Linked DNA regions of Homo sapiens: regions 1 and 2 are each linked to region 3. Evidence: fine-mapped expression QTL. A gene starts in region 3. Each other region holds a variant in brackets. All regions are shown on one strand. Distances are from middle to middle.

Region 1 (9,388 bases), 23 kb after region 3:
TGGCCACTTGTGGTGCGACCTCGATGATCCGGGGTTTGTCTATGATTCTGGCTGTGCGGTTGCCCTTCTCTACAATCCCAATAATCCATGCTTGGTGGCCTTCACCATATTTGGGGGACTTTATCTCTGCACAGAACCGAGCTGCTTGCTCACGTGGTAAACAGATCAGAAGGCCGCCTGGCAAAAGAAAACAAGAATGACTGTTAGTGTTGACATGACAGCAGCTTCTCTGCCTCTGCTGCTTCTGCAGAGATCCAACTTCCATCAACAACTTGCTGCCACCTATATGCAAGTAGCTCTTCCCATTCAACTAAGCAGCTTTTTTTTGAGACAGGGTCTCACTCTGTGGCCCAAGCTGGAGTGCAGTGGTACAATCACAGCTCACTGCAGCCTCAATGTCCTGGCTCAGGTGACCCTCCCACTTCAGCTTTCCCAGTAGCTGTGATTACAAGTGTGCACCACCACACCTGGCTAATTTTCTGTAGAGACAAGGTTTCACTGTGTTGTCCAGGCTGGTCTAAAACTCCTGGACTCAAGCAATCCACCTGCCTTGGCCTCCCAAAGTGCTGAGATTACAGGAATGAACCACCACTCCCAGCCTAAGAGGCCTGTTCTATGCTGTAATTAAGCAATTGCTAGTAAACTCCTAACACACACACATATACACTCCAACTTTCAACTGTGAAAATGACCTATTCGTGAACCACATAACACTGTGTAGGGGTAAGGTGTTTGGGGCTTCAATAACCCATGTGGTAGCTATTTTTTCCAAGCTACACTGAAACAAATATTGACAAACAAAAGGGAACTTTTGATTCTCTACATCGACTCTCTCATTTTACCGAGAATGCTTTTTTGTATTTTTAGAAAATTTAAGACTCATGAAACAGTGTATGCCCCAAAGTATCTAGGTTCCAGTCATGACTCTGTCATTATATCCAAAAGACAAACAGTATAAAATACATTAAAATAAACCTTTGTTGCTCTTTCCAGTAAATAGGCCATAAATTTTTTTTTTTTTTGAGACGGAGTCTCGCTGTCTCCCAGGTTGGATTGCAGTGGTGTGATCTCGGCTCACTGCAAGCTCCACCTCCCGGGTTCACACCATTCTCCTGCCTCAGCCTCCTGAGTAGCTGGGACTACAGGCGCCCGCCACCACACCCGGCTAATTTTTTGTATTTTTAGTAGAGACAGGGTTTCACCGTGTTAGCCAGGATGGTCTCGATCTCCTGACCTCGTGATCCACCCGCCTTGGCCTCCCAAAGTGCTGGGATTACAGGCGTGAGCCACTGCACCGGGCCAAAATTTATTTCTCTAAGTAGAAATAAGATGATGAGGAAAAACTGTAGTCTACTTCTACAAAATGTAAAAACCTTGTGGCTGGGCATGGTGGGTCACACGTGTAATCCCAGCACTTTGGGAGGCCGAGGCGGGTGGATCACCTGAGGTCAGGAGGTAGTTCAAGACCAGCCTGGCCAACATGGTAAAACCTCGTCTCTAAATTAGCTGGGCATGATGGCACAGCCCTGTAATCCCAGCTACTCGGGCTGAGGCAAGAGAATCGCTTGAACCGGGGAGGGGGAGGTTGCAGTGAGCTGAGATCGCGCCATTGCACTCCAGCCTGGGTGACAAGAGGAAAACTCCATCATAAAATTAAAAACTTCCTATTTCTGAAGAAAGGAAACAAATTTAAATGGCTGGTAACATTCGTCAATTCATTCAATTTCCATTCAGTGCCCAATTATGTGGCAGACACTGTCCTGGCCAGAGCCTGAACCAGCAGGGGAAAAAAACCCTGCCCTGTTGGAGCTTACTTCTAGAAAATGGTTTGTTTTTTTAAACGGGAGGCTGAAGCGTCCTCTATAAAGGCGGTGAGAGGCCTGGCAGAGTCCTGAAGCCCCCTCGCCACAGCACAGGTCGACGTGACCAGGGCTTTGTGGTCCCAGCACTGTGGTCCCTTGCCCCGGCCTACTACGGAATCTCCCAGGCAGCCTTCACAGATGCTGAGGCCCAGGCCCACCCGAGATGGATCCCACCGTTTTTGGGAGGCTGGGGCTAGGCATGTGTATTTTTCTTTTTTTTTTTGAGACAGAGTCTCACTCTGTCGCCCAGGCTGTAGTGCAGTGGGGCGATCTTGGCTCACTGCAACCTGTGCCTCCTGGGTTCAAGCGATTCTCCTGCCTCAGCCTCTGGAGTAGCTGGGATTACAGGGCACACGCCACGACGCCCCGCTAATTTTTGTATTTTTAGTAGAGACAGGGTTTCACCATGTTGGTCAGGCTGGTCTCGAACTCCTGACCTCGACCTCCCAAAGTGCTGGAATTACAGGCGTGAGCCACCAGGCCTGGCCGGCATGTGTATATTTAAAATCCTAAGGTGATTCCACTCTTTTGCGGGTAGAAAACTAGAGTTCTAGAGGAAAGGAAATAGAAAAAGAGAGAAACCGAAAAAAAGGGAAAAACAGGGAGACTTAAAAGATGAAAACAGTAAAGGTAAAGGGAACAAAGGGGGCAAAAGAGAAATGGTACTTCAGGAGGACGCGCCATCTGGCTCCAGCTGGGGCTGCGGGAGTGGGAATGAGCGATGGCGAGCCTGTAGGCTGTGGGTGGCGGCCTCGGCGGCCGGCAGGCCATGCTGGAGTACCTGCCATGATGAAGAGGAGGACGTCCCACAAGTTCCGGACAGATGTGGCCACCAAATTAATCAGGAAACAAAAGGAGCTTAATCTTAGAAAAATGATAAGGGATATAAAAGCTCCCTAGGAGTCAAACTACTGGGGCGTATGGTGTCAGACCTGCACTGCTGTCTGATGGCTCTCTCTACCTACGCTTGCTCCATCTCCCGTTTATCCTCCATTTATGTTTCCTCTAATAAATTACTGCACATCTAAGAAAAAAGAAAAATGGCATTTTAAAGACATAATATCCTATTGCATTCTTTTTTATTCTGTATCATTCTCTTTTCTTTTTTTTTTTTTTTTAAGGCAGAATCTCGCTCTGTCACCCAGGCTGGAGTGCAGTGGCGCAATCTCGGCTCACTGCAACCTCTGTCTCCCAGGTTCAAGTGATTCTCCTGGCTCAGCCTCCCAAGCAGCTGGGATTAAAGGCATGGACCACCACGCCCAGCTACTTTTTTTTTGTATTTTTAGTGAAGATGGGGTTTCACCATGTTGGCCAGGCTGGTCTTCAACTCCTGATCTCACGTGATGTGCCTGCCTCAGCCTCCTGAGGTGCCAGTATTACAGGCAAGAGCCACCACACCTGGCCCCTTTTCTCTCTATCATTCTTAAAACAACGTTAGACAATTTTCAAGGAAAAAAATATCACCTGTTCAAAGTAACCTAGGGGTATTACAGTTAATTTCAAATGCGAAGCTTTCAGTAAAAACTGAATGCTACCTTATTTCCCCCATCACCATATCCTTGCATCAAAAAGAGCACAGGCCACTCAACCTCAGCAAGGCTGCTGGATCCACCCAGGATGGCGGGGACCAGACCCACCGGGAGGAGGAAAGGCACCAGCTGCTGCGGAGGCCGAGGTCAGCAGCATGGAACTCGAACAGAGTGGGGGCCCACTCGGGGTGGGGCTGCTGCTTTCTCGCTGAGCTTTCTGTTAGCCTCACTATTTAGTCCTCAGATGCGCCCAGCATCCTGTACCTGAAGTCTCCGGGCAGGTCCCGTGCATGAGGCCGAACATGTTTCCGCAGGCCTTGCTCACCGCAGCCATCTTGGCCAG[C/G]ACCGGGAGGTTGTGAATTACAAACGACACCTCGTTCCTCTGCTGCTTGGCCAGGTTCTGCGCATGGCCCAAAATCCCGAAGCCCGTGATGTCAGTGGCGGCGTGGGCATTGAACGTGTGCATGAGTCCTGCAGCTGGGAGAGAGAGGGGGCGGCTCTGAGAAAAAACACCTTTCCTCAACTCAAAAATCTTACGTCCACAATTAATCTGCAACTTCCTTACTTGTCAGGGAGATGACGTATCGGAATAATGAAAACGCAATGTAAAATCAACCAAAGACATAGTGAAATTCCAAAAGTTCTTATTTCACTTTGAGCCACCTGAAAACTATCAGAAGCTTCAATTAATAGTAGTTTTCCAGTAAACTAAAAAAACTATGCAGAGGGATTATGATCTCAGTGGAAGGTAAACCGGCCAAGACCATCCTAAAACCAAAGACCGGCACTTTTTTCCTTTTTTGAGATGGAGTCTCGCTCTGTCATCCAGGCTGGGGTGCAGTCGTACGATCTCGGCTCACTGCAACCTCTGCCTCCAGGGCTCAAGTGATTCTCCTGCCTCAGCCTCCTGAATAGCTGGGACTACAGGTGCGCACCACCACGCCCAGCTAATTTCTGTATTTTTAGCAGAGACAGGGTTTCACCATATTGGCCAGGCTGATCTTGAACTCCTGACCTCATGATCCGCCCGCCCTGGCCTCCCAAAGTGCTGGGATTACAGATGTGAGCCACCACACCCGGCCAAGACCAGCACTTTTTAAGAAGGCCTTGCTCAGTATCAAGGTACTCCCGCGAAAGGTGAATTGCGTGCAAGTTTATTTTTAAATTTCTTTCTTTTTTTTTTTTTTAAGAGACAGAGTCTTGCTCTATTGACCAGGCTGGAGTGCAGTGGCATGATCATAACTCACTGCACTTGGGCTCAGGCAATCGTCCTGCCTCAGCCTCCCAAAGCGCTGGGATCACAAGTGTGAGCCACTGCTCAATAATATTCCATACTACAGATACACTACATTTTGTTTATCCATTCATCCACTCACCTACTATTATTTAATTATCCATTCACCCGACCTATTATTTAATTTTAAAAAAATTTACAGACTTTATTTTTTGGAGCAGTTTTGCGTTTAGAAAGAAATTAAGTGGGAAGTAACAAATCCTCAGTGCTCTGCTCTACCTGATCCCCTTCCTCTCCGATAACCTCTGGCCACCACTGATCCTTTCTGCATCTCTACAGTTTTGCAGAATGTCATGCAGTTGGAATCCTTCTGTATGGAGCTTTTTCAGACTGGCTTCTTTCACTTAGTAATATGCACTTAAGATTCCTCCACATCTTTTCATGGCTTGATAGCTCATTTCTTTTTACTGCTCAATTATATTCCATCATACAGATACACTACATTTTGTTTATCCATTCATCCACTCACCTACTGAAGAAATGAATGGCTGCTTCCAAGTTCTGGCAATTATGAATAATGCTGCTATGAACATTTGTCTGCAGGCTTTTGTGTGAATGTAAGTTTTCAACTTTTTTGAGTGAATATCAAGGAGCACAATCGCTGCATCATATAATAACATATTTAGTTTCATAAGAAACTGCCAAACTGACTTTTAAAGTGGCTGTGCCAGTTTTCAGTCCTACCAGTAATAAATGAGAGTTCCTTCCTGTTTCTCTACATCCTTGCCAGCAGTTGGTATTATCAGTGTTTTTGGGTTTTTTTTGAGACAGGGTCTCGCTTTGTCACCCAGGCTGGAGTGAGGTGGTGCGATCACAGCTTACTGCAGCCTCGACCTCCTGGGCTCAAGGGATCCTCCCAACCTCAGCTTCCCAAGTAGCTGGGACTAAGGCGCAAGCCACCATGCCCAGCTAATTTTTTGTATTTTTTTGGTAGAGATGGGGTTTCACCATGTTGCCCAGGCTATTCTCAGTGTTTTGGATTTTAGCCATTCTAACAGGTATGTGGTGGCATCTCAATCACTGCTTTAATCTACAGTTCCCTATTGACGTACCACACTGAAGGTTTCCTTTTATGCTTATTTGCCATCTGCGTTATCTTCTTTCATGGTGTCTGTCAAGGTCTTTGGGCCATGTTTAAATTGAGTTGTTTTTTATTATTGAGTTTTAAGAGTCCTTTGTATATTTTGGATACCTGACCTTGAACAGGTATGTGTTTGGCAAAATTTTTCTCCCAGTCTGTGGCTTGTCTTTTCATTTCCTTAACAGTGTTTTTCACCGAGCAGAAGTTTTTTATATTAATAAAGCCAAACTTAGCAATTTTTTAATAGATAGTGCTTTTGGTGTTATAAAGTCATCACCAAACCCAAAGCCACCTCAATTTTCTCTGATGTTACCTTCTTCCAGTTTTATATTGTTGTGTTTTATTTAGGTCTACGAATCATCAATATGGTCTGGCTCTGTGTCCCCACCTAAATCTCATCTCGAATTGTAATCCCCACATGTCAAGAGAGGGACCTGGTGGGAGGTGACTGAATCATGAGGGCGGTTTCCCTCGTGCTGTTCTCGTCAGGGTGAATGAATTCTCATGAGATCTGATGGTTTTGTAAGTGGCAGTTTCCCCTGCTCTTCTCTGTCCTGCTGCCTCATGAAGAACCTAGGTGCCTGTTTCCCCTTCACCATCTGCCACGACTGTAAGTTTCCTGAGGTCTCCCCAGCCATGTGAAACTGTGAGTAAATTAAACCTCTTTCCTTTATAAATTACCCAGTCAGCTGGGCATGGTGGCTCACGCCTGCAATTCCAGCACTTTGGGAGGCCAAGGTCAGGAGTTCAAGACCAGCCTGACCAACATGGTGAAACCCCGTCTCTACTAAAAATACCAAAATTAGTGGGGTGTGGTGGCGTGCGCCCTGTAATCCCAGCTACTCCAGAGGCTGAGGCAGGAGAATCGCTTGAACCTGAGAGGCACAGGTTGCAGTGAGCCGAGATCACCCCACTGCACTCCAGCCTGGGCGACAGCGAGACTCCGTCTCAAAAAAAAAAAAAAAAAAAAAAAAAAAAAAAAAAAAAAGAGACTCAGTCTCAAAAAAAAAAAAAAAAAATAATAATAATAATAATAAATGAATAAATAAATTATCCAGTCTTGGCTATTTATAGCAGTGTGAAAACACACTAAACATTCATTTTGAGTTAATCTTCACGAAAGGTATAAGATCTGCATCCAGAATAATTTTCTTCATGTGAATGTCCACTTGTTCCAGCACCATTTGGTGAAAAGACTCTTTTCTCCAATGAATTGCCTTTACTCCTTTGTCAAAAATCAGTTGACTAGGCCAGGTGCAGTGGCTCACGCCTGTAATCCCAGTACTTTGGGAGGCCGAGACAGGCGGATCACAAGGTCAGGGGTTCAAGACTAGCCTGGCCAACATGGTGAAAACCCATCTCTACTAAAAATACAAAAATTAGCCAGGCGTGGTGGCGGGCGCCTATAATCCCAGCTACTTGGGAGGCTGTGGCAGAAGAATCACTTGAAGTCGGAAGGCGGAGGTTGCGGTGAGCCAAGATCCTGCCACTGCACTTCAGCCTGGGCGAAAGAGCAAAACTCCATCTCAAAAAAAAAAAAAAAATCAGTTGACTATAATATGGACCTACCTCTGGATTCTCTATTCTGTTCCTCTGATCTATAACTTTTTTTTTTTTTTTGAGACATGATCTCACCCTGTCACCCAGGCTGAAGCGTAGGGGTATGATCACCACTCACTGCAGTCTCAACATCCTGGGCTCAAGTAATCCTCCCACCTCAGCCTCTCGAGTAGCTTAGACTACAGGAATGCACCAGGCGCAGCTAAAGAGACGAGATGGGGTCTCACTATGTTGCCTAGGCTGGTCTCCAACTGCTGGACTCAAGTGATCCTCCTGCCTCAACCTCCCAAAGTGCTGGATTATAGGTGTGAGCCACTGTGCCTGGCTATAACTTTCTTACAAGTAACAACAAATTACAGAAAATTTTTATTTCCAAATGAATTGTAAAACAATAGGTAAAAGATAATTGTGGTACATTTCTCTGGTAGAACATTATCTAGTCATTAAAAATTATGTGTACTATGGCTCACGCCTATAATCCTAGCACCTTGGGAGGCCAAGGAGGGTAGATCACCTGAGGTCAGGAGTTCGAGACCAGCCTGGCCAACATAGTGAAACCCTGTCTCTACCAAAAATACAAAAATCCGCCGGGCATGGTGATGATGCGTGCCTGTAGTCCCAGCTACTGGGAAGGCTGAGGCAACAGAACTGCTTGAACCTGGTAGGTAGCGGTTGCAGTGAGCCGAGATCACACCAATGGACTCCAGCCTGGGCGACAGAGTTAGATTCTGTCTCAAAAAAAAAAAAAAAAAAAAAAAAAAAGTTTACTAGGATACATAATATGGGAAACATTAGTCATGTCAAAACAACAAAAGCAGGCACTCCAAATACATATACTAACCATTACATAGTGAAAACTTATACTAACCACTACTTTAAAACAACAATAGTAAATCACCAGCCAAACATGAAAAAAAGTCCTGGAAGAATACATAAAAATGCTAGCCGGAGCTGTTTTGGGTGGAGGGACTATGGACAACTTTTTTCTGTACTATTTTCCATTTTCTAAAAACTTTTCTATAATAAGCATGTAATTCTTTTATAGTAGAAAAAATGTATAAAATAAATGGGAAGAGAAGACATATTAAAAAACGCTTTCTAAACATAGTGTGCCATTGTAAACTGTGGTGAACACTTTGGAAGACAGTTTGGCACTATCTATAAAAGCTGAGCCAGTACTGATCTCTTACACGTGCCTCAGAGGGCTGGGCCAAGGAAGTCCATAGCAGTCGCCCCAGTGTGAAACAGGAGAGCAGAGAAGCCAGTGGAAAAATCAACACAGCCAAAAGGAATCTACTACAGCTACATATAACAAGGAGACTCTCAGGAACAATGGTGAACAAAACAAGTAAAAAAAATGCAAAACTAATTTGCTGCTTAAGAACACAAGGGCTGTGCAATAAAAATATTCTAAAATGCAAGAAAATAAACACAAAATTCAGTGGTTACACCTAAGCAGGAATGCAGGGGATGGGTGGGAGTGGGGGCACTTCTAGACTTCCAAGGTTATGTTCTGGAAATAGCTCCAGTATCTTAAACTTTCTAAATTTCCATTCTGAATGGTTTGCTTCCAAATCTTACATAGGTAACCCACACAAACGCTTTCTAGAAATAGTTCCTCTGGTATGTCAGAAGTTAGGACTTCCTTCTTAATTATAAAGCACTGTAAGTCAGGGACCATCTGCAGTGATCTATGGAATGCCAACCTGGTACCAGGAGAAGACGGTCTGTAGTCACTGGCCAAAAATCTGGCCACCTACCCTGAGACAGTATGTGGCCAGAAAAGCCTAAGACATTTACTGTCTTGGACCCCTGGGACCGAAGCGCCCTTCCCACCTGTCATACCTGTCCTGTTGAGCCTCGCCATGTTCATCATCGCCTCCTGGTAGGCCAGCTCTACATCTTCTTGGGTGACCACTAGTTTAATCTTATTCCATTTCTCAGGCTGATAATAGAAATGTAGGTGAGGGAGAGAAAGAGAGGAAAATGTGATTAATCTTTACTTCTAGCAACTGAGAAAAACAGCAACTTTTTCTTATTTAACTTCTAGGGACTTTAATTC
Region 2 (10,683 bases), 52 kb after region 3:
ACCGGCTCGCTTTGCGCCCTCCGCCTCCTCCCGAAAACGGGCCGCGGGCCGCTCCCACAATGCACCGGGCGCGGCCGGGCTCCCTTAAGCGTCGCCTGAATAAAAATGCCGCGCCCGGCGGCGGCGGCGGCGGCGGGGGCCCGGGCCCGCGCCTGGGCGCCGCGGGGGCTCGCCTGCCTCGGCGCGGCCCTGCGGGAGCCGGGCCGCCGCGCTCCCGCCGGCTGGGCGCGCGGGGGTCCTTTAAGGCCGGCCACCTCCCTTTAAGAGGCGGCCCTGGCTGCTGGGTGGCGGCGTGCGGCCCGGGAAGGGGGCGGGGGCGCCGTGCAGCCCCGAGCGCGGCAATGATTGGTCTCGGGGGAGGGGTGGGGGGTTGCAAACCCGAGGAGCGGTGGCATCCGTTGCATGATGCAAAAAAGGATTGATTTCAAAAGTTGCGAGTTGCATTGGCAGCCGCCCTTGGCGCCCGGGCCACCTTTTTCCCGGGCCCCGCTGCAAGGGCCGGGAACGTTTCCGCCACCTGGCCGGGCTCGACCGCGCGGCGCTCTGCGGGGCGCTGTCCCCGCTCCCCGAGTGCGCAGCGGAGCGTCCTGGAAGACAATGACCATGGGAACAATTTGCACAGGAGGCTAGGAGCCCAGGAAAAGCCGCCTGGGCGCCAGGCAGAGGTTTTTTGAAAACACAAACGGCGCGTTAGATGCTTGGGGACTCCCAGCATCTGTCCTTCCTATTGTTTAGCTCGGCTCCGGAGTTCACGGGAGCCTCGTGAAATGTGGAGACGTCCTGCAAAGTTTCTTGAACACTTCATGTGCGTGGTAGGAAGTCGAGGAAAAAGGTTTACGGTTCCCCGCTGGTTGCATTGTTTGTCCTGCACATGTTCGAGCGAACATGGCAGCCGCAACCCTGGATGTGTTCGAATTGACATCGAGGGGGGAGCTTCACGTCGTGAAATAACTTTTTTCTGGGCTTTCGAGATTCTAAAGCATTGCTGATGAAAATAAACCAAATACTTTCAGATATCGTTTAGGGCTTCTCTCTAAAACAGCAGTGTGCAGGAATGCCGATCGAACTTTTCTAGGCAGTAGGTCAGCATTTTCCAAATGTTATTTGGGAGCAGAAATGTTTTGGGTCACTGGACCGTGCTTTACGTGGCACGGCAGGTTGGCACGCTACGCAGATGCCCTTTTCGTTAACATTTCCGCTTGCCAGTTGCTCCGGGTTTTAATCCTGGGCTGGATGCAGAAGTGATGCCACCTCGAAGACAGGCTGCTCCTGTCTTTGTGTACTTTCTTCATACCCTGTAGTAAGTTTGCAAAGAACGTGTTAGTCTGCATTCTTTTATTTTATATTTATTTATTTATTTATTTTGAGACGGAGTCCCACTCTGTCGCCAGGCTGGAGTGCAGTGGCGCGATCTCGGCTCACTGCAACCTCCGCCTCCTGGGTTCAGGTGATTCTCCTGCCTCAGCCTCCCCAGTAGCTGGGATTACAGGCGCCTGCCACTGGAGGATGGCTTCTCCCAGAGGGGAAGACAGGGTCACGGTTCTCATTAAGAGGGTATTGTACTAGTCAAGCCCGGAGATGTACTTGAACTGAAAGCAAGGGGAATGCAGCCCAGGGAAGGGATTTGGTGTGATTTAGCACGTAGGAAGGAGAGGAAGAAGGATAAGATGACCCCCAGGTTTCCAGTTTGCGGGGGTGGGGGGTGGGGGAGGGAATGAGGAGCGATGCTAATAATTTATCTAAGAACTGCTGAAAGGCAAACAAGTTTCGGGGTGAGTTCAGCTTTGGAAATGTTAAATCTGAGGTCTGCCGGATGGTGTGGGGGTGGGGCTCAGAGTTGCAAATCTCAGGTCTGCCGGATATTCCAGACCAAAGTTAATAGGGAAACAGGTCCGGAATTTGGTGTGGGGATGGGGCTCAGAGATGCAAATCTGGGTGCCATCAGCATGTAAATGGTGTTCGAAGCCTCCGTAAGAGGTGAGATTAACCCCGAAGGGAGAGCTCAGGAAAAAAGTGAAAGAGACCTTGGACAGAGCTCTGCAGAACTTGGAAATCAAGTGGCTGGGCGGGACAGAGGCCGATCCCCGCTGCGTCGGTGGGAGGCCACCATCCTCAGAACCGACTCTTCCTCCCCGCCTCCACCCACCACGAGCTCACCGGGAAGCAGTTCTCTGCCGCAGAGGCCGTAAGCCACAGATGCCTTACTTCATCCAGGGCCACACTACAGCCTTGGCCCAGATCATCTGGCAGAGTCATGCATCCTTTTCTTTGCCGGTGATGAGAGCTTCTTCCTTGGGTACTGCTTTGAGCTAGTCCTACGCTCCCCCGCAACTCCCGGGCTCACCAGAACCCCATTCTAGGGAGCCATCCCCGCTGGATTCTCAGGCTCTGCTGGTTCCGTCCAAGAGATGGTTCTCCTGGGTTGCATTGTCTGGTTGGGGCTTATTAAAAATACCAGTTTACCGCTGAGCAGGGTAGCTCAGGGTGCCTGTAACCCCAGGGCTTTGGGAGGCCAAGACAGGAGGATCACTTGAGGCCAGGAGGTTGAGACCAGCCTGGGCAACATAATGAAACCGCGTCTCTACAGAAAATTTAAGAAGTAGTCAGGTGTGATGGCGCATGCCTATAGTCCTAACTACCTCAGAGGCTGAGGTAAATCATTTGAGCCCAGTAGTTCAAGGCTACATTGAGCTGTAATCGTGCCACTACACTCTAGCCTGAGTAACATAGCAAGACCCTGTCTCAAACAAAACAGAACAAAACAAAAAGAACTAATTTACCAGCTTCACTCACTTGAAAGATTACAGCTAGCAGATACAATGGGTTGAATTATGTCCACCACAAAAGGTGTGTTGAAATCCTCACTGCCCCCCATACCTGTGAATGTGGCCTTACTTGGAAATAAAATATTTGCAGATTTAATCAAGGTAAGATGAAGTCATACTCAATTGTGATATGCCCTAAATCCTATGGCTCATATTCTTAGAAAAAAAGGAATATTTGGGCTGGGCGTGGTGGCTCA[T/C]GCCTGTAATCTCAGCACTTTGGGAGGCCAAGGTGGGCAGATCACTTGAGGCCAGGAGTTTGAGACCAGCCTGGCCAACATGGCGAACCCCATCTCTACTAAACGTACAAAAATTAGCTGGGCGTGGTGGCATATGCCTGTAATCCCAGCTTCTCGGGAAGCTGAGGCAGAAGAATCGCTTGAACCCAGGAGGCAGAGGTTGCAGTGAGCTGGGATCATGCCACTGCACTCCAGCCTGGGTGACAGAGCAAGATGTCTCAAAAAAAAGAAAAAAGAAAAAGAAAGAAAGAAAAGAAAAGGAAGATTTGGAGACAGCGGCACAGAGGAGACACAGGGAAGATGGCCATGCATGTGAAGACCGAGACAGAGGTTGGAGCAATGCAGCTACAAGCTACAGCGGAGGTTGCCGTCAGCATCAGAAGCTGGGAGAGGCAAGGAGGAATTCTTCCCTAGAGCTTTCAGAGGGAGCGTAGCCCTGCCGACACCTTGGCTTCCCGCTAGCAGCCTCCGGGATTTAAACTACCCAGCTTGCGGTCCTTTGTTATGGCAGCCATGGGAAAAGACTCCAGCAGGTCGGAGGTGTATGTGGTGGGGAAGGGATGTGAAGAATCCCCATTTTGCCAGGCTCCCTGGGTGATTCTGATGCTTTTGAAGAACACTGACCTAAGAATTCCACTTCCTCTGAAACCCAGAGGGACGAGAGGCTGCCTGTTCTATACCCCACATCCTGCTCACCCCAAAACAGAAAAGCAGCTCCAGTGACATCACCTTCCTGTCACCTGCCCTTCTCATTCGGGGCTCATGCCATCCAACACTGCCACCATCTGCTGCCAGAAGTGTCACTCCCCTGCATGGTTTGAATCATGCCCATTCAAAAGTGGCCCCTGCTCTGTCATCCCAGGGGATGGAGAGGGTCCATTCTCAGGAATAGCACCTGCTAGATGATGGATGTGCAAATCTGATGACCTTGACCTTAACTCCACTTTAGACACCCATTGTCTTGGCCGTGCTGTGAACCTTCTCGGCCCTGGAAATCTTTCATTTTTTATTCGTTTAGAGATGAGCTCTCGTTATGTTGCCCAAGGTGGTCTCAAACTTCTGGGCTCAAGCAATCCTCCCACCTCAGCCTCCTGAGTAGCTGGGACTACTACCATGCTTAGCTAACCCTGGAAATCTTAAACACCAACACCCTCTCCCCCGTCCCTGAGTCCTCTCCCTTCTTTACATAGGACACCCACACTCTAACTTCATGGGGGCCACCAGTCTCCTGAAGTGGATCCGTTTCATTCTGTTCAGCTTGGACCGTCTGAGGGTAGTTCTGCAGCCTCATCTCACCTCAACCCATTTCATTGACCATGTTCACCCCCACATGTCCAAACTTAAGCCCCTCTACCTGCCTTCTTTGTCCTTCCACTGGGCTGGAGGAAACTCAGAACTTAGAGATCCTGCCATGATGGGCATGTCAGCCCCCAGTGCCAGCCGGGCTTTTCTGACACCTCAGAAATCATTGAGTATGTTATTCCTGATGTTCATTATTCTCCCCAAGGGCTGGTTCACACTTTGCTGCCTTCAAGAGCAGATGCACCTTACAGAAAAGAATTCATGTCCTCAGGGGAAACCCTGTAATTCCCCCACCCTTCCCTGGCCCCACTAGACTCCTCTGACCTCCAGGGTCAGTGTCTCAGAGACAGGACTGCCCTCTGCCGGTCCCAGGCTGGTCCCTGCCTGTACCCTGACTTCCACCCCTCCAACAATAGCTAACCTTTGTTGAGGATTCACTACATACCCCACTGCACAGTGTTTTAAAGCACTGCTTTTAGAATTCTCCCCACAGTCCCCTGCGGTAGGTTTTCCTTTCATGGGGATGGGAACCAGGGTTCCGACTAATTAAGTAATTTATCCAAGGTCACTGTCTTAGTTTGGGCTCCCCCAAAGTAGACCTGGAGACAAGGATTAGGGAGAAGGGAGTTAGTTAATTTGGGAGGTGATCCTAGGAAACATAAGTCATGAAGCAGACAGGAGGAAACAGAAAGGAGAAAGCCGGAAGGAATGTTAGAGTGGCCTACCAACCGTGGGCACCTGGGACTCTGCCCTGTTGAGGCTGCTCTGAGAAATGGTACGGACCCCCTAGGGCAGGCAGATGAATGACGAACTCCAGTAGGTCTATGTCCCAAGCCCCAGAGCCTGTGACTATGTCATGTTACAAGGCAAAGAGGAATTTCAGTTGCAGGAATTGAATGTACTGATCAGAGCCAAGTGTTGTAGTTCATGCCTCTAGTCTCAGCTACTCGGGAGGCTGAGGCTGGCAGATTATTGGAGCCTAGGAGTTCAAGGACACAGTGAGGTATGATTGTACCACTGCACTCCAGCCTGGGTGACAGAGACCCTGTCTCTTAAAATAATTAAAGAAAAATTTGCTCATCATTTGAGCTTAAAATAGGGTGGTTATCTTGGATAATCTAGGTGGATCCAAGGTAATCACAAGCCTCCTGAAAAGTGGAAGAGGGAATAGAGAGCTGGAGAGATGGGAGCGTGAGAAAGAATTAGACTGACATTGCTAGCTTTGAAGATGGAGGAAGCGGCCACAAACTGAGGAAAACAGGTGCCCCCTAGAATATGGAAAAGACAAGCAGGTTCTCCTTTAAAGCCTCTGGAAGAGAATACATCTAGCTGATAGCTTGATCTTAGCTTAATGATATCTGTGTCAGACTTCTGGTCCACAGAACTGTCAGATCATAATTCAAGCTGTTATAGGAGAGGGGCCCTGATCCAGACCCCAAGAGAGGAATCTTGGATCTCGCACAAGAAATAATTCAGGGCAAGCTGGGTGCGGTGGCTCACGCCTGTAATCCCGTCGCTTTGGGAGGCCGAGGCGGGTGGATCACCTGAGGTCGGGAGTTCGAGACCCGCTTGACCAACATGGTGAATTCCTGTCTCTACTAAAAATACAAAAATTAGCCAGGCATAGTGGCAGGCGCCTGTAATCCCAGCTACTCGGGAGGCTGAGGGAGGAGAATCGTTTGAATCCAGGAGGTGGAGGTTGCAGTGAGCCGAGATTGTGCTATTGCACTCAAGCCTGGGTGACAGAGTGAGACTCTGTCTCAAAAAAAAAGAAAGAAAGAATTCAGGGCAAGTCCACAGTGCAAAGCAAAATAGCAAAAGCAAGTTTATTTAATTTTATGTATGTATTTTTAAAAAACAAGTTTATTAAGAAAGTAAAGGAATAAAATAATGGCTACTCCATACACAGAACAGCCTTGGGGGCTGCTGGTTGCCCATTTTTATGGTTCTTTCTTGATGATATACTAAACAAGTGGTGGATTATTCATGCCTCCCCTTTTTAGACCATATAGGGTAACTTCCTGCATTGCCGTGGCATTTGTAAACTGTCATGGTGCTGGTGGGAGTGTAGCAATGAGGGCAACCAGAGGTCACTCTCATCACCATCTTGGTTTTGGTAGATTTGGGCCGGCTTCTCTACTGCAACCTGTTTTATCAGCAAGGTCTTTATGACCTGATTTTGTGCTGACCTCCTATCTCATCCTGTGACTTAGAATGACTTAACCATCTGGGAATGCAGCCCAGTAGGTCTCAGCCTCATTTTACCCAGCTCCCATTCAAGATGGAGTTGATCTGGTTCAAATGCCTCTGACAAAGCCACAAAGTTTGTGATAATTTGTCTCAACAGCAATAGCAACAAATCTGTCCCCTTAAACTCATGCTACTGGCAGGAAAAGAAGCCACGGCTCTATCCACTGACTCCTGTCCTTTGGTGGTTAAGGGTTGCCCCTGGATGTTAATTCCCCGGAACTCCCCGCACGTCCTCTCACTGGACTGGACAAGACTGAGAACTTCAGGGCCAGCAGAGCTGCCCTGGAGTGCTGGGCAGGCAGGTGATTGAGGTGGGATGCTCTCAGCGGGCTGGCCCCTGCAGCTTTGGGTAAGATCAGTGAGTCAGATGTCAATGGCGTGGGCAGTGCTACCACAGTGCCCAGCTGTAAGTAGTGAAACCAGGATTTGAGCTTGGGCTACGTCTGGAGCCCATGCACCCAGCCTCCAGCATTTGCTAGTCCCACTCTTTTGTTTGAAATTTTCAGGCAGGGCACAGTGGCTTATGCCTGTAATCCCAGCAGTTTGGGAGCCTGAGGCGGCTGGATCACCTGAGGTCAGGAGTTCCAGACCAGCCTGGTCAACATGGTGAAACTCCATCTCTACTAAAAATACAAAAAAATAAGCCAGGTGTGGTGGCAGGTGCCTGTAATCCCAGCTACTTGGGAGGCTGAGACAAGAGAATCACTTGAACCCAGGAGGTGGAGGTAGCAGTGAGCCGAGATCGTGCCACTGTACTCTAGCCTGGGCGACAGAGTAAGACTCCATCTAAAAAAAAATTGGCCAGGCATGGTGGTGGGTGCCTATAATCCCAGCTACTGGGGAGCCTGAGGCAAGATAATCACTTGAACCTGGGAGGCGGAGGCTGCAGTGAGCCAAGTTCACACCAATGCACTGCAACCCGGGCAATAGAAGAAGACTCCATCTCAAACACACACACACACACAATTAAAATTCATGTCACCTGTTTCTTTTAACCTTTTTTTTTTTTTTTTTTTTTTTGAGATGGAGTCTCGCTCTGTCACCCAGGCTGGAGTGCAGTGGGCGATCTCGGCTCACTATAACCTCCACCTACTGGGTTCAAGCAATTCTCTACCTCAGCCTCCCGAGTAGCTGGGATTAACAGGTGCCCGCCCCCATGCCTGGATAATTTTTTTTTTTTAATTTTTGGTAGAGATGGGGTTTCACCATCTTGGCCAGGCTGGTCTTGAACTCCTGACCTTGTGATCCACCCACCTCAGCCTCCCAAAGTGCTGGGATTACAGGCGTGAGCCACCGTACCCAGCCACACCTGGCTAATTTTTGTATTTTCAGTAGAGACGAGGTTTCACTGTGTTGGCGAGGCTGGTCTTGAACTCCTGACCTCGTGATCCACCCACCTCAGCCTCCCAAAGTGCTGGGACTATAGGCGTGAGCCACCATGCCTGGCCACACCTATTTTTTGTATTTTTAGTAGAGACGAGGTTTCACTGTGTTGGCCAGGCTGGTCTAGAACTCCTGACCTCGTGATCCACCCGCCTCAGCCTCCCAAAGTGCTGGGACTATAGGCGTGAGCCACTGTGCCCCACCACACCTGGCTAATTTTTGTATTTTTAGTAGAGATGAGGTTTCACTGTGTTGGCCAGGCTGCTCTAGAACTCCTGACTTCGTGATCCACCTGCCTCGGCCTCCCAGAGTCCTGGGATACAGGTGTGAGCCACCATGCCCGGCCTCTTTTTACTTTTTAAAATGGGGCCACTTGAACACTTAAGATGACACATGTGGTCACATCCACTTTCTAGTGGACAACACTGCCTTAAAGGATTCCTGGTTCCCAGACCCCAGACACAGGCATTTGGGCACCTACTTGAGTGTTACACAAACACTTCACATTCAACATGTTCCAGACCAAAATAATCATTTTCCTTCCCACTCTCCCTGTCCCATCACCCCCGACTATGTACTCTCTTGGCTGGTGGACAATCTCCTGTGTTGCACGTGGTGGAACCCTGGCCCATATGCTGAACTCCTCCCTCTCTTTCCAGTCCCTATTCTGAGTCAATTCTACCACCTTGATATTCTCCATCTCTCATCCCCACTGTTGTGGACTTAGCCTTATTTACGGTCTTTTGCTGTTTTGCTCATTTCCATCAGCCCAAAATGATCCATGCGGCTGGAATGACATTTATCAGAGGCAAACCTGATCATGTCCTTTCCTTGCTTAAAACTGCGCAGTAGCTCCCGTTGCCTGTGGCTCCATTTCTCAAAAAGTCTGGTCTTCATTCGTGGGTGTGCATGGATGAGTTAAGTAGGGCATGGAAGAATATTTTATTTTTGTAGTTAGGGGTATTCATTTCAACACCCACTGGAAGGATTTAACTGAAACATAAAACCTGTGATTTCACAGACATTATTGTTCAGAACAAAAGTGAGTCAATTTAAATAAAAGTTTAAAGAAACAATAGCACAGGCTGAAGTAATAGCACTGACCAAGTAAATAATAGCTACAGGATAAATTTCAGACTCCTTAGTATGGTAAAAAACTAAGCAAACAAAAAAATAAACGCTTTGTGACCAAGCCTCCTTCTCTCCCTTCCTTCCTTCTTTCCTTCCTTCCTTCCTTCCTCTCTCCCTCCTTCCCTCCTTCCCTCCCTTCCTTCCTTTCTTTCTCTCTTTCCCCCTCCCCTCTCCTCCCCTCCCTTCCTTTCCTTTTTAACAGAGTCTCACTGTGTTACCCAGGCTGGAGTGCAGTGGTGTGATCTCAGCTCACTGCAACCTCCACCTCCTGGGTCCAAGCAATTCTCCTGCCTCAGCCTCCCGAGTAGCTGGGATTACAGATGCCCGCCACCACGCCTGGCTAATTTTCGTATTTTTAGTAGAGACGGGGTTTCACCATGTTGGCCAGGCGGGTCTCAAACTCCTGACCTCAGGTGATCCGCCCGCCTTGGCCTCCCAAAGTGCTGGGATTACAGGCATGAGCCACAGCGCCCGGCCTACTTTTCTTTCTTTTTTGAGACTTGGTCTGGCTCTGTCACCCAGGTCGGAATGCAGTGGTGTCACCATACAGCTCACTACAGCCTTGAACTTCTGGGCTTGAGAGATCCTCCTGCCTTGGCCTCCCAAAGTGCAGAAATTACAGGCATGAGCCACCGCAGCCAGGCTTCTACTTTTCTTCTCTAATTTAATCTACCCTCTTCAGCCCTACAGCCACACTGAGTGGCTTCCAGATCTCTGGGCTCACTTCTCTTTCTTCACGAAGTGTCTCAGCAAGTACTATTTCTTCACCTGCTCTCCCTCTTCCACCCTCCTCACTTCTGGTGAAAATGGATAATAACTAAACTTGTGAGATTCAGCTCCAAGAGTCTCCTCTCTGAAGGGCTCTCTAGATACTCTAGGGAGAGTGAACACCCTATTCTTGGTAGACAGAGTAATAATCCCTGAAGATACCCTCATCCTCATCTCCAGAACCTGTGAATGAACATAGTATCTTCCGTGGCAAAAAGGGCTTTGCAGATGTGATTAAACTAACGATCTTGAGATAGGAGACTATCCCAGATTATCCAGGTGAGCTCAATGTCATCACAAGGGACACAGGAGGGTCCATAAGAAACGGATTCTCCCCTGAAGCCTCCAGAAGACACACGGCTCTGCCCACCCATTTTTATTTTTATGTATGTATGTATGTATTTGTTTGTTTGTTTTTTTGAGACGGACTCTCGCTCTGTCGCCCAGGCTAGAGTGCAGTGGTGCGATCTTGGCTCACTGCAACCTCTACCTCCTGGGTTCAAGAGATTCTCCCATCTCAGTCTCCCGAGTAGGGATTACATGCCTGGGATTACAGGCATGCGCCACCATGCCCGGGTAATTTTTGTATTTTTAGTAGAGATGGGGTTTCACCGTGTTGGCCAAACTGGTCTTGAACTCCTGACCTCAGGTGATCTGCCTGCCTTGGCCTCCCAAAGTGCTGGGATTATAGGTATAAGCCACTGCACCTGGCCTATTTTTATTTTTATATTTTTTACTATTTATTTATTTATTTATTTATTTATTTTGAGACGGAGTTTCGCTCTTGT
Region 3 (11,066 bases):
GCCCATGCTTCTAAACACTTCCCAACAAACCAAATCATTAAAAAACATCTGTAAAGCCAGGAGCGAATCCACCTTGTATTCTCATTACATGCACACAATACATACTATTGTAAAATAACAAATAGTGTTACTGTACCGAAAGCGTTGAATATCGGCATCAGGTACAAGATTTTTGATTACTAGAAACCCATTTTCTTCATAAAATTTTCTCTGTTCCAGGGTTAGAACGTTATTATCCAGAGTATACCTAAAGGAGAAAAAGAATCCCAAAATAAGTTACATTTTTAAATTACAGGCTAGGCACAATGGCTCACACCTCTAATACTAGCACTTTAGCGGGCCGAGGCAAGTGGATCACTTGAGGTCAGGAGTTTGAGACTAGCCCAGGCAACATGATGAAACCCTGTCTCTACAAAAAATACTGGTTGTGCCACTCCACTCCAGCATGGGCGACAGAGTGAGACCCTGTCTCAAAAAAAAAAAAAAAATTTAAATTACATCCTAAAAATATGTATCAAGAACCTGAGGCTAGGCGTGGGGGCTCATGCCTATAATCCCAGCACTTTGGGAGGCCGAGGCAGGTGGATCGCCTGAGGTCAGGAGTCTGAGACGAACCTGACCAACATGGTGAAACCCCATGTTTACTGAAAACACAAAGTTTAGCCAGGCATGGTAGTGGGCACCTGTAATCCCAGCTACCCGGGAGGTTGAGGCAGGAAAATCGCTTGAACTTGGGAGGCGGAGGTTGCAGTGAGCTCTGATCATGGCACTGCACTCCAGCCTGGGCGACAGAGCCAGACTCCGTCTCAAAAAACAAAAACAAAGACAAAAACAAGAACCTAGGAAACGTTCATGCTCTTCAATTCAGCATTTCTAAGACCAAGGAAATAATCTGAAAACTTACGCTTTATGTCACCAAAACAAGTGCATTAGTGGGCCGGGCACAGTGGCTCATGCCTGTAATCCCAGCTTTTTGGGAGGCTGAGGCAGGTGGATCACCTGAGGTCGGGAGTTCGAGACCAGCCTGACTCACATGATGAAACCCCATCTCTACTAAAAATACAAAAATTAGCGTGCCTGTAATCCCAGCTACTCAAGAGGATGAGGCAGGAGAATCGCTAGAACCTGTGGGGGTGGAGATTGCAGTGAGCCAGGATTGCACCAGTGCACTCCAGCCTGGGTGACAGAGCAAGGCTCCATCTCAGAAAAAAAAAAAAAAAAAAAAGTGCATTAGTGGAAGAAAAATTAACTAGTGACACTATGTTCACTCAGTGGAATATGACTCAGACATTAAAAATTAAGGCCATATAATAGTATGGATGGCGGGCACAGTGGCTCATGCCTGTAATCCTAGCTTTGGGAGGCTGAGGTGGGCGGATCACGAGGTCAGATCGGGACCATCCTGGCTAACACGGTGAAACCCGCCTCTACTAAAAATGCAAAAAATTAGCCCGGCATGGTGTCTGGCGCCTGTAGTCCAGCTACTGGAGAGGCTGAGGCAGGAGAATGGCGTGAACCCGGGAGGCGGAGCTTGCAGTGAAGCAAGATGGCACCACTGCACTCCAGCCTGGGCGACAGAGCCAGACTCGGTCTCAAAATAAAATAAAATATAATAAAATATAATAAAATAAAAAATAGTATGGACAATGCTTATTATAATAAAATATTATTACAATTATGTAAAACCAAGACACTATATGAAAAAAAGAAAAGCCTGCAAAGAAATACACCAAAGCAATTTTTAACAGTGATTGCCTTTAGAAATGGAATTAGGGATGATTTTTTAAAATTCCTTCTATTTCTCTGATGTTTCTGTAATGAATACATATGATTTTTCAGATGGGAAACAAATTCAATAAATTGTATATTTTTAACTGTCCAGTTGATGCATTCCAAGAAGGTAAAGTAACAAAATCCAAATAAATGTACAGCATACCCATAAACTCAAATCACCCAACCTATTCCTTAAGATCGGAATTGTGGTTGTATGAGAATATTTAGGAAGGTCAAGATCTTCCCCTTTAAAGGTGATTTAAGATAAACCAAAGATGCTAGCTAATATGTCCATATAACCAAATACAAGCTAATTTGTTTTGTTTTGTTTTGTTTTTTGAGATGGAGTCTGGCTCTATCACCCAGGCTGGAGTTCAGTGGCGTGATCTCAGCTCACTGCAACCTTGACTTCCAAGGTTCAAGCGATTCTCCCACTTCAGCCTCCTGAGTAGCTGGGATTATAGGTGCACACCACCATGCCCAGCTAATTTTTGTATTTTTTCATTTTGTAGAGGTGGGGTTTGTAGAGATGTTGGCCAGGCTGGTCTCGAACTCCTGACCTCAAGTGATCCACCTGCCTTGGCCTCCCAAAGTGCTGGGATTACAGGCATGAGCCACGGTGCCCGGCCACAAGTTAATTTAAATGAGATGTTTAACTGAATTTTTAAAAGTCAGATTATAAGGCTGGTGTGATGGCTCAGGCTGCAATCCCAGCACTTTGGGAGGCCAAGGCAGGAGGATTGCTTTAGCCCAGGAGTTCAACACCAGCCTGGGCAACATAGGAAGGGCCCGTCTCTATTAAAAATAAATAAATAAATGTCGGATTATGTATTTTCTGGTATTTTTCCTTCTTTCTGAATCTTAAAATACATACAGAAAATTAGTCGGTCTCCAAAATTTTCCACAAGTGCACTAATTAGAATAAGTCCTGGAAACAGAGGATTTGTATAATAAAATTCTAATCAGGTAACATATTATGTGGTATATCTTCATTACCACTCAAGAAACTTTTATATACATAATATATTTCAAAATCAAAACTCAAACTACTTACTGGAATTGTTGAGGATGGAAACTGGCAGAGGAAATAGTCCCTGAAGTGGGATGAGCTACCTAGGATGTGAATTAAGGCAAATAAAGTAAAATATAGAAGGCCAGGCACGGTGGCTCATGCCTGTAATTCCAGCACTTTGGGAGGCTGAGGCAGGAGGATTACTTGAGCTCAGGAGTTCGAGACCAGCCTGGCCAACATGGTGAAACCCCATCTCTACTAAAAATACAAATTAGGCCGGGGGCGGTGGCTCACGTTTGTAATCCTAGCACTTTGGGAGGCCGAGGCGGATGGATCACCTGAGGTCGGGATTTCGAGACCAGCCTGACCAATATGGTGAAACCCCATCTCTACTAAAAATACAAAAATTAGCCAGGCGTGGTGGCGTTCATTTGTAATCCCAGCTACTGGAGAGGCTAAGACAGGAGAATTGCTTGAACCTGGGAGGTGGAGATTGCAGTGAGCTGAGATCAGGCCACTGCATTCCAGCCTGGGCAACAGAGAGAGACTCCATCTCAGAAAAAAAACTACCACCACTACTACTACTACTACTACTACTACTACTACTACTACTACTACTGCTACTACTACTACTACTAATAATAATAATACAAATTACACTTGGGAGGCTGAGGCAGGGGAATGGCTTGAACCTGGGAGGCGGAGGTTGCAGTGGGCCGACATTGCAGAGTGCGGCACTGCACTCCAGCCTGACCACAGAGCAAGACTCCGTCTCAAAAATAATAATAATAATAATAATAATAATAATAATAATAATAATAACAACAATAACAACAACAACATAAATTCGCCTGGCATCGTGGCGCAACCCTGTAGTCCCAACTACTTAGGAGGCTGAGGTGGAAGGATCTCTTGAGCCCAGGAGTGAGCCGAGATCGTACCACTACTGCACTCCAGCCTGGGTGACAGAGTGAGGCCCTGTTTCAAAAAAAAAAAAAAACCAAAAAAGCAAAACCCTAGAAATTCCTTTTAAAGATCTCCTTTCTATCCGGTAACTGCAGAGAGTTGACATAGAATTGCATTGTTTCTTTAGCTTAATCGGTTACTTTCGGAATGTCACTCTCATCAATTAACATGTTATCCTTTCTTTCTCTCTGTTTCTCTCTTTTGGAACGCACTGGCCATCACGGCTCACTGTAACCCTGGACTCCTGGCCTTGGCCCCCAGAAGAGCCGAGACAACAGGCAAGGCGTGTGCCGCCGCGCCAGTCCTCACCCGCTGTCCTTCCCCAAATAGTGTCTTTATATAACTCAGTGGCAATGCCGTAGTCCAGCAGGGAGGCCGCCCTGGGCAGCGCCTGCCTGGCCAGCTCCTGCCCGGGAGGGCACCGTCCTCTCCCCTCCGGAGAGGTCCCGGTCACTGCCTGCCTGGGCCGGTTCCAGGCAGCCCTGCGCGCCTGTGCACCGTGCGCCTGTGATTGGACATCTCTGGGTCTCTGGACAGCTGCCGGGGTCACGCGCCGCCGGTGAAACGACGTCTCCACAAAGAGAGGAGCAGAGGCCCCCAGGGATCCCGGAGGGCAGGGCAACGCGGCAATTGCCCCGACCCCAGGGCGGCCGCGCGTGTCCTCGGGGGACGCAGCCTCTTCCCCGCTCCCCGGCTCCTGGAAGAGACGCGACCCAGGCGGGGACGCGGCGCTGAGCGAGGAGGCGCTGGGGCTGCGAAGCGTGCGACCCCGAGGCCTCCACCCGGACCAGGGCCACCACTCAGGCGGCGGCGCCGGCGCCGGATCCAGCCCGAGCCCCGCGCAGCCCAAAGGATACGACAGCCCCGGCCGAGGGGCGGCCGAGGTGGCCCAGAACAATCTGCAGACGGGCGGCGGCGCGAAGCTGCTCCATGGCTGCGGCGCGGGGAACCCCCACCCCTCCCGGCCTCTGCCCCATTTAGCCCAGCGGGCGGCTCCGCCTCCAGGCGCCGCCCCGGACTGGACGTAAGCGGGATTCCGGGCGGTGCCAGCTCGCGGGCCGGGCTGCTGGGGAGCCCTAGTCCGCTAGAGTCCGCGCGCCGGGCAACCGCCCGGGGCTGAAGTCCTCCCCACACCATGATCCTTCCGTCCTTTATTTTCTTTCTTTTTAAAAAGAAACAAGATCTTGCTCTGTCGCCCAGGCTGGAGTGCAGTGCGCGATCATAGCTCACTGCAGCCTTGAACTCTTGGGCTAATTTTTATTTTTTGTAGAGATGGGGTCTCGCTACGTTGCCCAGGTGGGTCTCAAACTCCCCCCGCCTCCCGTCTCGACCTCCCAAAGTGCTGGGACTACAGGCGTGAGTCATTACCCCTGCCCCGCACCCTGTTTCTGTTCCATCACCAGGACCCTCCCTGCCGCACCGAAGCTCGGGGGCCCAGTGACCAGGCCGAGGTCACACAGTGACAAGTGGCTGGGCTGGGACCTCACTCACTCTCCTAACGTCATGGCTTCCATCTGTTTAACCCTACGTGACTGCTCCTTCCACTGACAGCTGAAAGAATAAAATCTCCGATTTAAACAAAAAGTTTGCCGGGCGCGGTGGCTCACGCCTGTAATCCCAGCACTTTGGGAGGCCAAGGCAGGCGGATCACGGGGTCAGGAGTTCGAGACCAGCCTGGCCAACTTGGTGAAAACCCGTCTCTACTAAAGATACAAAAATTAGCTGAGTGTTGTGGCGCACGCCTGTAATCCCAGCTACTGGGGAGGCTGAGGCAAGAGAATCACTTGCAACCGGGAGGCGGAGGATGCAGTCAGCGAGATGGCGCCACTGCATTCCAGCCTGGGTGACAGGGCAAGACTCCGTCTCTAAACAAACAAACAAACAAACAAACAGGTTTTTAGCCGGGTGCGGTGGCTCACGCCCGTAACTCCAACACTTTGGGAGGCCGAGGCAGGAGGATCGCTTGAGCTCAGGATCGCTATAGATCGAAAGCAGCCTGGGTAACATAGTGAGAACACCTGATCTACAAAAAAATTAGCCGGGCGTCGTGGCGGGCGCCTGTAGTCCCAGCTACTCAGGAGGCTGAGGCAGGAGAACGGTGTAAACCCAGGAGGCGGACCTTGCAGTGAGCGAGATGGCGCCACCGCACTCCAGCCTGGGCGACAGAGCAAGACTCCGTCTCAAAAAAAATAAAAAATAAATCAATAAATTAAATAAATAAAAATTCCAGACATTGTATGAGGAAGCATTGCAAAACTTTCTGTTCTGTTAGCTGTTGCCTGTAGCCCCCAGTCATGTTCCCCACGCTTGCTCGATCTCTCACTAAACTTTCACGTAGACCCTTAGAGTTACAAGCCCTTAAAAGGGCCAAGAATTTCTTTTTCAGGGACCTCGGTTGCAAGTCTGCCGAAGTTCCCGGCCTAATACAGCCCTTCTTTAATCCGGTGTCTGAGTTTTGTCTGCGGCTCGTCCTGCTGCAGGAGGATCACCTGAGCCCGGGAGTTTGAAGTTGCAGTGAGCCCAGATCGTGCCTCTGCACTCCAGCCTGGGCGACAGAGTGAGGCCATGTCCAAAAAACACAAAAACAAAAAACAAACAAAACTCCAAAACATCAATGAAGTTTTGAAAATAAAAATAAAAAAATAAAAATGCTAAGATGCATCCCTAAAAGTCATATGTGCCATTCAAAAGGGGTATTTCATTTAGTGGGACTCCAGCCCAAAATATTAGAAAGTTCGGTTGGTCATAAAAAAAAAAAAAGTGAATAAAATAAATGACCTCCAGAAAAGTCTGATGCACACAGGCCAGTATGGTGTAAATTTCTTAGATAACTCCAGCATCTCTTTGTAAGATTTATTTTCCATTCCATAACTACGGATATTGACATAGCATCTCATTGTTTCTTTAGTTTCATTTTTTCATTGATTTTTTGTTCTTTTTTAGCTTCGAGTTACTTCCAGAACGTCGCAGCACACGTTATCACTTCCTGCATGACGTCTTTATAGAATTTGGTGACAATGTCGCAGTCCAGGAGGGAGGCCCGCAGCCAGCATCACCAGCCCCTTCCTGTTTGCACAGGCAGGGAGGAGAACGGCAGCTCCCAGGCTTCCACTGGGGAGTCCCTCCGGCTTTCTCCGGGATTCCGCCCGCCCCAGGGTCTCAGACCAACAGAAGGACCCGGGATCCCTCAGCAGCTCCGGACCTCATCTGCCCCACTTCGGCATCCCGCGCGGGAATATGACCATGTAGGAGTAACCCGGGGCTCTCAAGGACTCTACGGTTTGTCACGGTTTGAACGCAAGCGCAGGGCCTGGGGCGGGTGCAGGTGGAGGGTCGGCCTCTTTCTGCCCTTGGGAACGCCCCTTTCTGGATGTGGACCGGCGAGGCGGTCTCTCCTTTCTGCCCTCGCCTGGTGAAATGTGGGCACTGCTGCCAGGAGAAAAAAAACTGAAGCTGTGAATTCAGTTCATCACCCTTCCCTTGTTTATTAAAAAATCGGACCTTGGCCGGGCGCGGTGGCTCACGCCTGTAATCCCAGCACTTTGGGAGGCCGAGGCAGGCAGATTAGGAGGTCAGGAGATCGAGACCATCTTGGTTAACACGGTGAAGCCCGGTCTCTACTAAAAATACAAAAAAGTTAGCAGGGTGGTGGCGGTCGCCTGTTGTCCCAGCTGCTCGGGAGGCTGAGGCAGGAGAATGGCGTGAACCCGGGAGGCGGAGCTTGCAGTGAGCCGAGGTCGTGCCACTGCACTCCAGCCTGGGTGAAAAAATAAAAAAAAAAAAAGATCAGGACCTTTACCCGCGCTGACGGTGATTGGTTTTCATGACCAATAAAGAAATTCGAATGAGATGAAGCTACTTACACCTGTGTTTTTACTGTTCCTTTAAAATGCCCTAATTTCACAACCATGTGAAAATTCCTGCCATCTCTCCCCCAAGGCATTTATACAAGGATGTACTTAGATATTTAGATGTATTTAAATTTATGCTTTTCTTTTCTTTTTTTTTTTTTTTTGAGACGGAGTCTGACTCTGTTTCCCAGGCTGGAGTGCAGGGCGTGATCTCGGCTCACTGCGACCTCTGCCTTCCGGGTTCAAGAGATTCTCCTGACTCAGCCTCCTGAGTAGCTGGGATTACAGGCGCGCCATCAAGCTCAGCTAATTTTTTGTATTTTTAGTAGAGCCAGTTTCACCATTTTGGCCAGGCTGGTCTCGAACTCATGACCTCAAGTGATCCGCCCGCCTCAACCTCCCAAAGTGCTGGGATTACAGGCGTAAACCACCGCACCCGGCCCAAACTGATGCTTTTTACCGACAGATGAAGGAAATTCTTAAATGCTCACAATTGTTATCTGCCTTTTTAAAATTAGAGGGATGCTGGGTTTAACATTTTTCATTTAAGATCCCACGGAGAATTAACATAATAATTTCTCCGTAGGTAAAGAGGTAATTTGATGAATGTTACTAGTTTTCTTTCAAATAGCTATTTGGATTATTGGAAAATTCCCTAAGTAGGCATCTTTAATAATTATGTTATTAAAATAAAAATATTTTAGAACAATTGAAGCAGAACATTAATGGAATGTAAACATTATCACAAGAATGAAAAGTTCTTTCCCCTTTGGTATTAGGCATTTATTCATTTCTTATTAAAGTTGACCTTTTGAAGATTACTTCAAAATTAGCTTCCCCCCACTTCCAGTAATGTGCTTGGTTACTTACGTATTGAAAGTAACCTTGCAGACAAGTTTTGAAACACAATTTTCAAAATGATCTAAGGAATAGTTTTCCCCATATATATAAATTAAATGATTTGTTAAATAATAGCCATATTTGAACAGCTAAGTAAAATGTTTGAGTTTTAAAATCTTGGATTAAATTGTTCAAACTGGCTAGGGGAAGTGGGTCACGCCTGTAATCCCAGCACTTTGAGAGGCTGAGGCAGGTGGATCACCTGAGGTCAGGAGCTCCAGACCAGTCTGGCTAACATGTTAAAAACCCGTCTCTACTAAAAGTACCAAAAAAAAAAAAAAAAAAATTAGCTGGGCGTGGTGGCACATGCCTGTAATCCCAGCTACTCAGGAGGCCGGGGCAGGAGAATCGCTTGAACCCGGGAGGTGGAGGTTGCAGTGAGCCGAGATAGCGTCATTGCACTCCAGCTTGGGCAACACGAGTGAAACTCCATCTCAAACAAAGAAACAAACACAAAAACGAAAACCAGAAAACAAACAAACAAACAAAAACCCCAGAAAATTAGCTGAGCGTGGCACACCTGTAGTACCAGCCACTTGAGAGGCTGATGTGGGAGGATCGCTTGAGCCCAGGAGGTGGAGGTTGAAGTGAGCCAATATTGTGCCACTGCACTCCAGCCTGGGCGACAGAGCAAGACTGTGTTTCAAAAACAAAATAATAAATTAAATAAATAAATAAATAGTTGAAGCCAAGCATGGTGGCTCCCGCCTGTAATGTCAGCACTTTGGCAGGTCGAGGCAGAGGATTGCTTGAACCAAGAGGCTCGAGACCAGCCTGGGCAACATAGCAAGACTTCGCCTCTACAAAAAATTTTAAAAAGAAATAGCGGGGTGCAGTGGCGCACGTGTAGTCCTAGCTACTCCAGAGTCTGAGGCAGGAGGATTGCTTGAGCTCAGGGTTCTAGGCTGCAGTGAGCCATGATCCCCTACTGTACTCCAGCCTGAGTGATAGAGATCCTATCTCTAAAATTTATTTTAAAAAGTTTAAAAAGTTAGCTGGGTGTGGTGGCTTATGCCTGTAATCCAGCATTTTGGGAGGCTGAGGCGGGTGGATCACAAGGTCAGGAGTTTGAGACCAGCCTGGCCAAAATGGTGAAACCCTGTCTCTACTAAAAAAATAAAAAAATTAGCCAGGCATGGTGGTGGGCGCCTGTGGTCCCAGCTACTCAGGAGGCTGAGGCAGGAGAATCGCTTGAACCCGGGAGGCAAATGTTGCAGTGAGGTGAGACTGCACCACCGTATTCCAGCCTGGGCAACAGAGAGAGATTCCAAAAATAATAATAATAACAATAATAAGTTGTTCAAGCATTGTACACACTTAAGGAAATGTCATTATATGAATAAAAAATTATCTGCAATCAACTCCAGATTCAAAAACTCTGAGAATAGATATTACTGTAGGTGAGGTCATTTGGTTACAAGTTTTAAAGTTCGTTTAGAATATAGTGGCTCACACCTGTAATCCCAGCATTTTCAGAGGCTAAGGCAGAAGGATCACTTCAGGCCAGGAGTTCAAAACCAGCCTGGGCAACATTGCAAGACCCCATCTCTGCAAAAAGTTTAAAAATTAGCCAGGTATGTAGGCTGGGTGCGGTAGCTCACGCCTGTAATCCCAGCACTTTGGGAGGCCGAGGTGGGCGGATCACCTGAAGACAGGAGTCTGAAACCAGCCTGGCCAACACCCTGTCTCTACTAAAAATACAAAAACTAGCTGGGCATGGTGACGCATGCCTGCAGTCCTGGCTACTCAGGAGGCTGAGGCAGGAGAATCGCTTGAACCTGGGAAGGGGAAGTTGCAGTGAGCTGAGATCGCGCCACTGCACTCCAGCTTGGGCAACAGAGCGAGACTTCGTCTCAAAAAAAAATAGCCAGGTGTGGTGGTACGCACCTGTAGTCCCAGCTATTCAGGAGGCTGAAGCGAGAGGATCTCCTGCTTTTCTCGAAGCCCATTTCTGATGTCAGCTATAATGAAAACAAGTCTGAAGAATGGAGACATCTGTGGTGCAAAGAAATATCTCATCTTCCAACCTAAATTAGAAACTAAGAAATATAGGTGTGTAAATCTGGGAGAAGAGGAAAGAATAAAATTATCACTTATGGAATTATTTGGATTGAGAGGCCCGGGGTAAATGATCTACCATGAAATAAACACAAATCAACCAGCAAACCTCTACACAATTATTGGGTACCTAATTTGTACCGAGCTGTCTAAAAGAAACAGGGAAACATAGGAGGGGGTACAGCAATGATCCACGTAAGCAGAGGGAAAGGCAGTGCCATGCCCAGGCTCTAAACGACACAGGGCAGGGGACAAGGCAGCAGGTGCAGGAAGAGTGAGGGCTAAGGTATGTTAGGGTGAAGGAGGGCAGAAAGGAAGGAAATAGGGAAAGAAATCACACACACACACTCATACACACACACATATACACATACATGCACACACACACACATGCACGCATGCGCGCACACACCTTCCATTCTGTGTGTCAGTTCCCCATGGATATGAATGGAACACGTGTGTGTGCAGGGAGGCTGGAATCACAGAGGCTGCTTGACAGCAAAGGG

Direction of the effects. Positions count from the first base shown, and alleles are read on the strand shown. Sizes are in standard deviations (SD) of each study's normalised expression. Not every link is listed here.
With allele C in place of T in region 2, the expression in ileum of the gene that starts at base 4,705 in region 3 is higher (small effect, 0.27 SD a copy in GTEx).

The links. PIP is the estimated chance that this variant, and not a neighbour inherited with it, causes the effect.
Region 1: its variant is fine-mapped to the expression of PHYH in whole blood (TOPMed, PIP above 0.99).
Region 2: its variant is fine-mapped to the expression of PHYH in ileum (GTEx, PIP above 0.99). The same link has a PIP of 0.9 or more in unexposed skin.

Annotation. Positions count from the first base shown.
Region 1 is chr10:13,319,180-13,328,567 of GRCh38, forward strand. SEPHS1 (selenophosphate synthetase 1) reads right to left here. Exons shown (of 9, transcript NM_012247.5): 7 at 9,172-9,271; 8 at 3,656-3,868; 9 at 1-177. Among named protein-coding and RNA genes, the nearest start is that of PHYH, 24 kb to the left of the region's middle. The variant C/G (reference allele first, on the strand shown) is at 3,735.
Region 2 is chr10:13,347,998-13,358,680 of GRCh38, forward strand. It overlaps SEPHS1 (selenophosphate synthetase 1), which reads right to left and starts at 296. Exons shown (of 9, transcript NM_012247.5): 1 at 3-296. RefSeq lists silencers at 1-61, 192-411, 7,415-7,568 and enhancers at 481-1,271, 1,272-2,063. The variant T/C (reference allele first, on the strand shown) is at 3,023.
Region 3 is chr10:13,295,360-13,306,425 of GRCh38, forward strand. PHYH (phytanoyl-CoA 2-hydroxylase) reads right to left here and starts at 4,705. Exons shown (of 9, transcript NM_006214.4): 1 at 4,609-4,705; 2 at 2,828-2,886; 3 at 137-247. The coding sequence starts at 4,683. LOC124902377 (a long non-coding RNA gene) reads left to right here and starts at 4,830. Exons shown (of 2, transcript XR_007062056.1): 1 at 4,830-5,047; 2 at 6,695-7,609. RefSeq lists enhancers at 3,695-4,315, 4,892-5,031, 6,407-6,907, 6,764-7,053, 7,244-7,393 and a silencer at 4,292-4,711.